2 separate regions of the Homo sapiens genome follow, and region 1 is linked to region 2. Evidence: fine-mapped expression QTL. A gene starts in region 2. The other region holds a variant in brackets. All regions are shown on one strand. Distances are between the middles of the regions. Region 1 overlaps PPP2R2B (protein phosphatase 2 regulatory subunit Bbeta). Region 2 holds the start of PPP2R2B (protein phosphatase 2 regulatory subunit Bbeta).

The links. PIP is the estimated chance that this variant, and not a neighbour inherited with it, causes the effect.
Region 1: its variant is the best candidate, but not a certain one, in a credible set for the expression of PPP2R2B in sun-exposed skin (GTEx, PIP 0.68).

Annotation. Positions count from the first base shown.
Region 1 is chr5:146,678,768-146,684,146 of GRCh38, forward strand. All of the region lies in intron 5 of PPP2R2B (protein phosphatase 2 regulatory subunit Bbeta), which reads right to left. Among named protein-coding and RNA genes, the nearest start is that of PPP2R2B-AS2, 120 kb to the left of the region's middle. The variant G/C (reference allele first, on the strand shown) is at 2,665.
Region 2 is chr5:146,875,772-146,881,150 of GRCh38, forward strand. PPP2R2B (protein phosphatase 2 regulatory subunit Bbeta) reads right to left here and starts at 2,986. Exons shown (of 10, transcript NM_181675.4): 1 at 2,820-2,986; 2 at 2,231-2,424. The coding sequence starts at 2,300.

The sequences.
Region 1 (5,379 bases), 200 kb before region 2:
AATCATGAGTGAACTCCCATTCACAATTGCTTCAAAGAGAATAAAATACCTAGGAATCCAACTTACAAGGGATGTGAAGGACCTCTTGAAGGAGAACTACAAACCACTGCTCAAGGAAATAAAAGAGGATACAAACAAATGGAAGAACATTCCATGCTCATGGGTAGGAAGAATCAATATCGTGAAAATGGCCATACTGCCCAAGGTAATTTACAGATTCAATGCCATCCCCATCAAGCTACCAATGCCTTTCTTCACAGAATTGGAAAAAACTACTTTAAAGTTCATATGGAACCAAAAAAGAGCCCGCATCGCCAAGTCAATCCTAAGCCAAAAGAACAAAGCTGGAGGCATCATGCTACCTGACTTCAAACTATACTACAAGGCTACAGTAACCAAAACAGCATGGTACTGGTACCAAAACAGAGATATAGATCAATGGAACAGAACAGAGCCCTCAGAAATAACGCTGCATATCTACAACTATCTGATCTTTGACAAACCTGAGAAAAACAAGCAATGGGGAAAGGATTCCCTATTTAATAAATGGTGCTGGGAAAACTGGCTAGCCATATGCAGAAAGCTGAAACTGGATCCCTTCCTTACACCTTATACAAAAATCAATTCAAGATGGATTAAAGACTTAAACGTTAGACCTAAAACCATAAAAACCCTAGAAGAAAACCTAGGCATTACCATTCAGGACATAGGCATGGGCAAGGACTTCATGTCTAAAACACCAAAAGCAATGGCAACAAAAGCCAAAATTGACAAATGGGATCTAATTAAACTAAAGAGCTTCTGCACAGCAAAAGAAACTACCATCAGAGTGAACAGGCAACCTACAAAATGGGAGAAAATTTTCGCAACCTACTCATCTGACAAAGGGCTAATATCCAGAATCTACAATGAACTCAAACAAATTTACAAGAAAAAAACAAACAACCCCATCAAAAAGTGGGCGAAGGACATGAACAGACACTTCTCAAAAGAAGACATTTATGCAGCCAAAAAACACATGAAAAAATGCTCATCATCACTGGCCATCAGAGAAATGCAAATCAAAACCACAATGAGATACCATCTCACACCAGTTAGAATGGCAATCATTAAAAAGTCAGGAAACAACAGGTGCTGGAGAGGATGTGGAGAAATAGGAACACTTTTACACTGTTGGTGGGACTGTAAACTAGTTCAACCATTGTGGAAGTCAGTGTGGCGATTCCTCAGGGATCTAGAACTAGAAATCCCATTTGACCCAGCCATCCCATTACTGGGTATATACCCAAAGGACTATAAATCATGCTGCTATAAAGACACATGCACACTTATGTTTATTGTGGCATTATTCACGATAGCAAAGACTTGGAACCAACCCAAATGTCCAACAATGATAGACTGGATTAAGAAAATGTGGCACATATACACCATGGAATACTATGCAGCCATAAAAAATGATGAGTTCATGTCCTTTGTAGGGACATGGATGAAATTGGAAATCATCATTCTCAGTAAACTATCGCAAGAACAAAAAACCAAACACCGCATATTCTCACTCATAGGTGGGAATTGGACAATGAGATCACGTGGACACAGGAAGGGGAATATCACACTCTGGGGACTGTTGTGGGGTGGGGTGGGGAGGGAGGGATAGCATTGGGAGATATACCTAATGCTAGATGACGAGTTAGTGGGTGCAGCGCACCAGCATGGCACATGTATACATATGTGACTAACCTGCACAATGTGCACATGTACCCTAAAACTTAAAGTATAATAATAATAATAAAAAAAACCACAGCGTTGCACACACTTAAAAAAAAAAAGTTCCCAGAAATCCTGAAGTAAATAAATTTGCTTAACTGTGTTTAAGCTAGGGTTTCCTATATTACTTGAGCCAGAGACATTTGTGTGAGACAGTGTGTGTATGCATGTGTGTACCACTGCTTTTAACAGTTTTCTGGTAAAAAGAAAATAAACTCATCTGATCACAACAACAAATTACAAGAGCATGACCCACCTTCTTCCACCCAAACAAACACAAACCTAACACCTTTCAGGTAGAAAATTCCTTTCCTTGTTGCTAAACCATTCTAAGGAAACCAGAGAATAAAATATATTTTTCTGTTGAAAACAGTCTCCTTTAACATGAAACCACCCTTGTAAGTAGTTTTCTCCAACCAAGATCTTGTTTTTATGCGTCAAAGACAAGATAGTATCTTGCTATGCACACTACCCCTAGGGAAATATTTAAAATATTTTTCTCTGGTAAGGACTGGTATTTAAAATGCTTACATCAATGCATCAGTCGAAGCCCGGCTTGCAACGTACTAGGATCAAAGTGATCATGTCCTCTATTGAGTTGGATTCCAAATCCATTTGCACTAATTATTTTCTACAAAAATCCTAATGCATAATGAGCAGAGGCCCTAGAAGTCCTCTACTGATTTCAAATTAGTTCTTTGCATAACCTAGTAGCAAAAAGGGATCTAGGCATGTATTTTTGATCTTCTATTAGTAAAGTCTAGTTGAAAAATAAATAAAAGTCAGCTCTTTACTTTGTTAACATTTTTAGGATTCTTGAGCAATGCCCTGCTTGGGTGTTGTATGCCATGTACATGCCTGCACGCACCCACACATGCACGTGTAGTTTCGGGGACCGGA[G/C]ACACACCCATTGCTCTAGCAACAGTGAGCTCACACTTCAGAAATGGGACCTGGTGTGGGCTGAATGTCTTTCCCATTACGCTTATAATTCAGATAATTTCATCTGAAAAATTCAGAAAATAAAAGTATTCTCTCCTTCAATCATCCAATTATCCTTGATTTTTCACTTCCTTTGAAAAGTATACAGAGAGCCCTTTAAATGAAAAGATGGGAGAATCACTCTAATAACTTCTCATTTGAGAAAATCCTATCTGGGTCAGTGTGAATCAGGTTTGGAATGGTGACAAGATCCTTACTTGCAAAGCCCTAAAAAGGCCAGAACTCTGCCCTGTCAACCTTCCCACATCTCTGAAATTCAGACCATTTAACAACCAAGGTTAGGGAAAGACAATGTGTCAGAGCCTGTAACACTATCAGGCTTTATGGCCAGGGAATCTCAAGATAAATGGCACCAGAGGCCATGGAAACATCCAGATTTTCTTCTGTAATGTGATTCTTTTCTTTTTCTGACACTAGTGGACGTCTCAGCTTGCCACTGCCATTGAGTGTACATATGGGAGGTGTCCTTTATTAGTTCCTATCACATTCAAGAAGCCATGGACACCTTCCAAAGGGTTTGGGAGCAAAAGACAAAGAGAACTCGATCCTAAACCAGGTATAGGGTTCTGCTTATATTTACGTCTATGTTGGATCTAATTACTACATGGTAAGTGCAGCATAACAAAGGTACCTTTGGGATGAAAGAAAATATTTTATTGTCAGTGAATACACTCTGAATGCAAGGCAGCGTAGGAGAGTCAGTACAAAGGCAGATTCAAAGCATAATGAATTGCTAGTCTCTAGATGTAATACTACTTCGAACTTTTCAATATATTCATCATGCTTTCCTGAAACTCCTAGTCTCTAGGTAAAAGACAAGATGGGAAAAAAGAGGAGAAAGGGATTAACATAAACTAAGCGTCTATTGATGGCAAGATATTATGCTAAACACTTCAACAAGTGACTTTATCAGCCCAACCTCTGTAAGAAAGTATAGTTATTATTCTGGAGTCAGCTTGAACCTGGTTTAAAAATATGGCTGTGCCACTTAGTAGCTATAGACATGAGCATGTCACTATAGCTCTCTAGATCAAATGTCCTCATCTGCAAAATGGGAATAACAGTAGTACCCACTCCACAGGCTGCCGTCTGGGCATAGTGAGATGGTACCTGCCTAGCAGAAGGCCTGGCACATAATACATACTTAATAAATGTCTGCAATAGTGTTACTATTATAGCACACTGGCAACTAAGTAGGCTGTCCCCCATGACTTGACCAGGAGTAAGAAGGGGAAAGAAGTTGAGTTATAAAAGGCACTAACAGCTCACAATCACAGAATCATCATGGATGCTCATTCTAAATCAAATCACTCTCTTAGTGTAAAGGCAACCACATTTTGATAATAATGTTGTCCTCAGACTGATCTATACAGAACCTTGAGGCAGGAGGAGACAAGAGGAAAAAGGAAGGGATTTTAAAAATCAAATCTGAGAATCTCTACTTTTGAGTAGAGAGATCATTATGCCAAAGGGTCTCAAACCCATCTGATCTTCAGGATGGCCAAGAATATGGCCGAGAAATACGGGTGGGTGTCTTGGCCACACTCCTGGAGATTCTGAGTCACTTGGTTGGAGATGACTTAGATGTTCCCAGAGTCTGATGATCATCCAGCTTTGGTAAGCCATGACCTAGTTTCATGTACCCTTCCTACCCCGCCTTTTCCCAAAATTAAACAGAAAGCCCACCTGTGCCCAAGGCACCAGTAACTTTTACAATCTCCTTGAAAAGTTGTTTTCCAGCCCCTGCTTACTCATATGTGTTTTGGCTTACACTGAATATTCAGATGCATATATTAGGCATTCTATTTTAGTACAAGAGGCAGGACAGCAGCTTGGGTTTTAGAGTCATAAAGACGTGCACTCAAGTCCAAGCATTACCACTTACTAGCCGTCTAACCTAAGGCAAGTTCCTTAACTTCCCTGGCTTCAGCTATCACATCTCTACAATAAGGATAATATCAGTGCCTATGTTATAGGTTTATCTTGAAGATTAAATTAGCCAATGCATGCAAAATGTTCTTGGAACATTAGCATAAATGTTAGCTTCTCTTTTAATTCCAACTGAAGTAGTTCCTTTGGCTGACATGGAACTCAATTATCATCATGTCTCTGAACATTAGCCAAAAATATTAGCCAATGAGCAGAACAGAAACATCCCAAACTCTCATCCCCCAAAGGCGAAACATGTCAAAACACAAAGGCTTGTCAGTGAGGGTAGTGGTTAAATTCTCGTGGAGGGCTTTCTGATCCCATAACTGAAACCCCATGACACTGACAGATACAATCAGATAATGATGGCAATCAATAATGATAACAGAAATTATTATTTATTTTCATAAACACAGAGTATGTGCATCCCACTGAGTTACACACATCACATGCCAGCATTCACTTTCAGGGCAGTCAATCAATGAGAGATCTCAATATCCACCCGCCGAGGCAGGATGGGGAGGATAGAGCGAAGGTTGAGAAATTACCCATACTAGAATGACACATTCACAAAGTTAATCTAATCCAGGAGCCGTTGGTGCCATTGCAAGCCTGTGAATATGGAATAGGCTTGATTGATTTTTCACTGCAGTAGCTAAACACGCCATTGTTATATGCAACAAATGT
Region 2 (5,379 bases):
AAGAAAACTTGTGGGGCAAGTCCCCAGTGAGGAGAATTTTTAAAAAGTCTTTTGATCTGGTGCTTTTTCAAGGTATACTAACACTTCTTAAGGAATTCATTGGAAGAACAGGGACTCTTCCCCCTCTGGCAACAAAATTGCATGAATCTTCCCTGAAACGAATAGGTCAAAACTGTAGGGAACTTCTTGTTCTATCCAACTTCTGGTATTTACATCGTTTAAGTTCTATTTTCCTTTTCTTTTCATACCTTCTCTAAGATCAGATTTTAAAACCTAGAAGCTTCTGTGAAATAAAGGTTTGTTAGTTTTGAGTGTGATTAGTATGTGTGTGTGTTTGAGAAAGAGAAAGAAATCTGAGAGGTTGATTCTCACATGCCAGAAATCTCATTGCTATAAACTCATATCTATTTTTGACTATGTGAACCTAGATATTCTATCCAGAATCAGAGTTTTCAAAAATGGAATAAAAATAAGAACAACGGTAATATCCAGGGCCCTGAAAACAATAAAGAATGCCATTTTTAACTGATTTCTTCACTTCACAATTGACACTCCTGTACACATAGCTCCACTCTGGGCATTTTCTCAGCTTGCTAAGTTTCTCTTGCCTGCATAATGTAATATACAAGAAAACATGAAGGCAGCTCTCTTTCTTTGTGGTTACAAACAGAAATAAATGTTCCCCCAAAAGCCAACAGACCCAAGGCCAACTTCTCTCTTGGATGACATGCTTAGATACAGAGTTAGTCATGTGCTATCAGGTCACTGAGTCAGTGACAAAGCACTAAGATTGAGGGAGAACATCTTACAATCAGGTTGCCATCATGCACAGAAAAAGAATCGGTAAGTATGGTGCTCTGTATAGGGGAGGGATGGGCTGCACATCTTAAAAGCCATCTCTAAGCTCCTGGAAGCCAGAGCTTACAACTCTGCTTTATCTGTCTAGCACCATGGGCATACTGGGCTTGATGCTCTCCAAAAATGATGACAAATGGAGAATATACTTTCAATAGCACTGGACATTCTTTCTGTCTAGAACTTCCAGGGATGTTTATAGAAGATGCCACCTTTACCCCCAGATGTGTGTGTGTCTTTTTATTTCTTTCAGAGCTTGAACTCTTTTACTCCCCCCATCACATTTCTCTAGCAGTCTTTTGATTTGATTAAATATTACAGAAATGTTAGCATCCAAGAATAATAATTTTAAATTAATACACCTTGCAACATTGTCCTAAAGCATTTCCACATACATTTTCTCGCATGGATATTACAATGTGATAATGCAACACTTTGTATGAGTGGCTAAGGATAAAAGGCCTACAGGTAGAAAATGAAAGCAAAAATGCAAAAGTTTTGGCACTGGGGGAAAAAAATGCCTCTACTCTCTATTCACACACAAAAGGCAGAATGAGATTCCACCTGCTGACTTTCCCTTCCTGCCCGCACAGCACTAGTGCTTATGTCAGAACAAGCTGGGAGAGAGGGAGAGACGACAATTTCACCTCTTGGCAAAGCTCAGCTTGCTGAACCCTTTTGCTTTCTGCTGGCTGTTGATTCAGCAGAAACTACTGCTGCAGAATTCATAATGGTGATTTTTAAAGGCCCCACCGATCGCGTTGCTCACCCCACGTGTCAGCCTCATTCGCTGCCCGCCAGAGCACTATTTCCCCAGCCACCTTTTTATTTTTGCTAATGCACTTCCAAAAGGAAAGAGGTTCGCCCGTCTGCAAAGGGCTTTTTGGGGTTTTGATTGTCTAAGCAGGTAACCTGGCCGGCCGGGGAGATGAATGGGCAGGAAATGAAACCTTGCCCTCCCTGCAGCCACTGAGAGACATAACATCGTTTCGCTCAGGGAGGGGGGACCAAGGTCCTACTGGGCCCCTCCCTTCTTATCTCCCCCCAAGACCCCTGCGAACATCTCGGGGAAGGGGTCATCTGCCTTCCTGGGGTCATCTTTCTGGGCGAGAGCCCCACCCTGAAAAAGCCTAATCCCTGAGGGCCATTTTAACTCCCGTGGGCGCCGGGTCCACCTGCTGCTGAACGCCGAGCTCGCCTCGCGGAGCCCGGATGGATGCGAGGTGCACTGGGGCTGCCGGGGCCAGCCGAGCCCCCGCCCCAGCCCTAGGGCCCGGAGGAGTCTCCGCCACTACGCGCCCAGCTGCCCAGGAAGCACAGTGATCCGCAACTTGCGCCCGGCCCCAACGGCGGAATGCGGCGGGGCTGGCGTTACCTTCGGTCGCATAGCTGTGGTCGCGCAGGAAACTGTTGTTGATTTTGCGGGTATCAATGTCCTCCTCCATTGACAGCAGGCTTACTTGCGTGGGAACCAGAAGCCGGCAGACAAGTATCCATGATCCCTCCCCGCAGCCAGTCTCACAGGAGAGGGGGGCAGGGGAGCCAGTGGGACTGCACCATGGTCCGAGCCTGAGGAGGAGACGGGGAGGCGGAGAGAAAAAAAATAAAAACCCGGCAATGGAGCTGTCACCTCCTCCACTCGGGTTCTGCGAGGCTGCGGCGGCTCCTCCCGCGCGGTGCGCTCACTCCAGCTCCAGTTCCCAGCGAGGATGCTGCGCCTGCCTCCGCTGCCTCCGGGTGCCAAGATACGCCGTGCCCCGAGGGGTCTGGTCCCGCCCGCCCGCCCCGGAGGCGCTCACAAGCGGGTCTGGGGAGATGCCCAACAGGTTCCCCTCCTTGGCAGCCGCTCCAAAATGCAAAAAAGATCCCTCCTCCCCCTGGGAGAGCGGGCAGCCGCGACAAAATGGTGCCTTTCTGGACCCGAGCTGCAGTGGCGAGATGGCAGGGACAGGATTCAGGCTTGCCTGGCCGGAATGAGGGTGCTGGTCCCACGGGAGGGCGGCTCCGGCAGGCGGGGGTAGGGAAGCTGGCGGGGAGCTGGGCAGGGCGCTGCAGCCGGCGCCAGCGCACTCACCCTCACACCCACACGCGCGCACTCGCAGCTGCTGCTGCTGCTGCTGCTGCTGCTGCTGCAGGAGGCTGGAGGCGGCTGGTGCATTAAAGGCGAGGCTCCTCCCAACCGCGTCAGCAGCCCCACGACTCTTTCCCAGCAGCAGTGGTGGCCGAGGCAGAGGCTGCGGCTGCTCTTTGCTGCAGTGGGGCGCATGCAGCCGCGAATCGGCACCTGGGCAGCAAGCGACTAGCTTGCAGGTTCAGGTGGAACGCATAGACGCGCTCTTCCAACCTCCTCCCCTCTCGCGCCACTCAGCTAAGGGCCACGTCTACGCTAGCACCCAGAGCCCCTAGCTCCCTGCCTTTCTCCGGACGCCTGAACTTGAGAACAGCAAAGAGAAGTAGGTTCCTTTGGATAGTCAGGAAGTCTACATCCAGGTCCCTTTTCCTCACCCTTATATGATGCATGTGGTCCCTTGGTGAATTTAAAGGGCGAGGTTTGGGGCTCGAAGCTTCAGAAAAAGAGGAGAAAGTGGGAAGTGCCGCTCAGAGCCTATCTTAAGCCCTCTAGTAGGAATAGGAGGGGGATCAGGGGCCAGAACTTTGCAACTGGTTCCCCCATTCCTAAGAGTCAAAATACCTTCTAACTGTAGGAGGCTGGTGTTCAATAAAGCATCTGTGTCTACACAGGTGGAGGAAAGCACCAGACTAGTAAACAGGATCAGTCTGAAAAAGTCCACTCTCCCTTGCAGTTTGCACTTCGTTTTGGACAAATTATTGCAGCCTCTCCGTTAGGTTTTGCTTGTGCAGGAACACCTTCTATTTGCTGTCAGCATGGAAGGTACATTGAAGCACAGAAACATAAGCATAAGAGCCCTGTGCCCACAGAGAGCCACTGCTACCCTGGGGGAATTTCAGGAGTCCAATTAATACAGAAAAGAGACCTGTCTTCCTACTTCAACTAGGAAGAAAATGTAGAATTCCCTCCCCACCCATGTTTTCCCAAATTTCAAACTCTACTTTTGAAAGAAAATGAGATTACTATTGTTATGAAACAACCAAAAACATTTAATGAAGCAACCCAAATCACTAGAAAGCCAATTTGGAAAAGACATCAACCCCAATCAGTAGAAAGCCAATTGGAAACGACATTTCCTAGGTTTCATCTTGTAGAAGGTATTCATTTCAATGGGTACCACTGTAGGGAGAGACATCAGCAAATGTTTTGCTCAGTTAAGCTCCACAAGTTTAGCTAGATGGGCCCAGAGGGACCTATGAGTTAATTATATACATACAATGCTTCGGCTAACACAATTTAGAAAGTATTTGAAGTTCAGAAAAATGGAAAAACAAGTCCTTAACTGAGGTTGGGAATTGTCATTAGATTTCCATGCAGTATGGATACTTCTGGTAGATAGAAAATGACATCTTCCTCATCTCCAGAAATTGACTGCATATCCCTGGGAGAAAAGAGCAGAAATGTTCCTTGACATAGTTATTTTGTGTGTGTGTGTGTGTGTGTGTGTGTGTGTGTGTGTGTGTGTGTGGTGGGGGGAGTTCAGTTCAACTTTCAATAGATTCTATTTTATTTTCATCTAGTGCTTAAGACTTATACACTTGTTTGTTCAAAATCCACATTTAAAATTTTAGTAACAGGTGAAGACGGGTACAAGTTGATTTAATCCACTTCAGTACAAGTTGTCGTGGCTGGTTCTTCCATGGGATGAGCTGTATCTATCACCGAGGTTCCAACATTCAGTCCTTTTGTAGTTACACATTGCAGCTTCTCTTGGATATTGGCACAATTTGGAGTAGGAGCAGAGTGGGGAAAAGCTAAGTTCATCTCTTAGTGAATCAAAATGATGAGAAGACATTGTGCCTTCGGTTGGAATGATCTTAAAATTGTTTCAGGAGGCCTTGGAATAGTATTTGGGAAAATTTCCCCTGTATCTTTCTGAATCAAGGGCTAGATTGGGACAGAGCTGTGTGATGAATCAGGTAGGCCCAGGCTCATTGGCCAGGCTGTGCTTGAGGAATTTTCCATTGTAACCAATGGGGAGAATGTCCCTTCCACAGATCGAGTCTCTGGGTTTATTTATTTTTCTTTTCACATATGCTGCAAACTTTCTCCTGCATTTATTCAACAGTCCAGGCATTTTTCCTAAGACACATGTTCTGAGAAGGCAGATTGGATAGGTCTCCATTGTTTAAGTAGATTTCAAGGTTTCCATTTGGCCAACTACTCTTTTCTAATATGAGAGAACTAGCTCATCCACCCAAAACCAAGGGGAAAAAAGCTGTTGGCTCTGTGCCATAACACAACGACCTGTGGTGGAGGTAAGGGAGTGAAAAGAGCCCTGTGCACCACTGTGGAGCTGGGGGGCGGGGTGGGGGAGAGAGTGGGGGAGATGGGAGTAGGCTGCAGAGATCAGTCTTCAAAAGACTCACTGGCCACTTCTCTTTTCCTCTAAA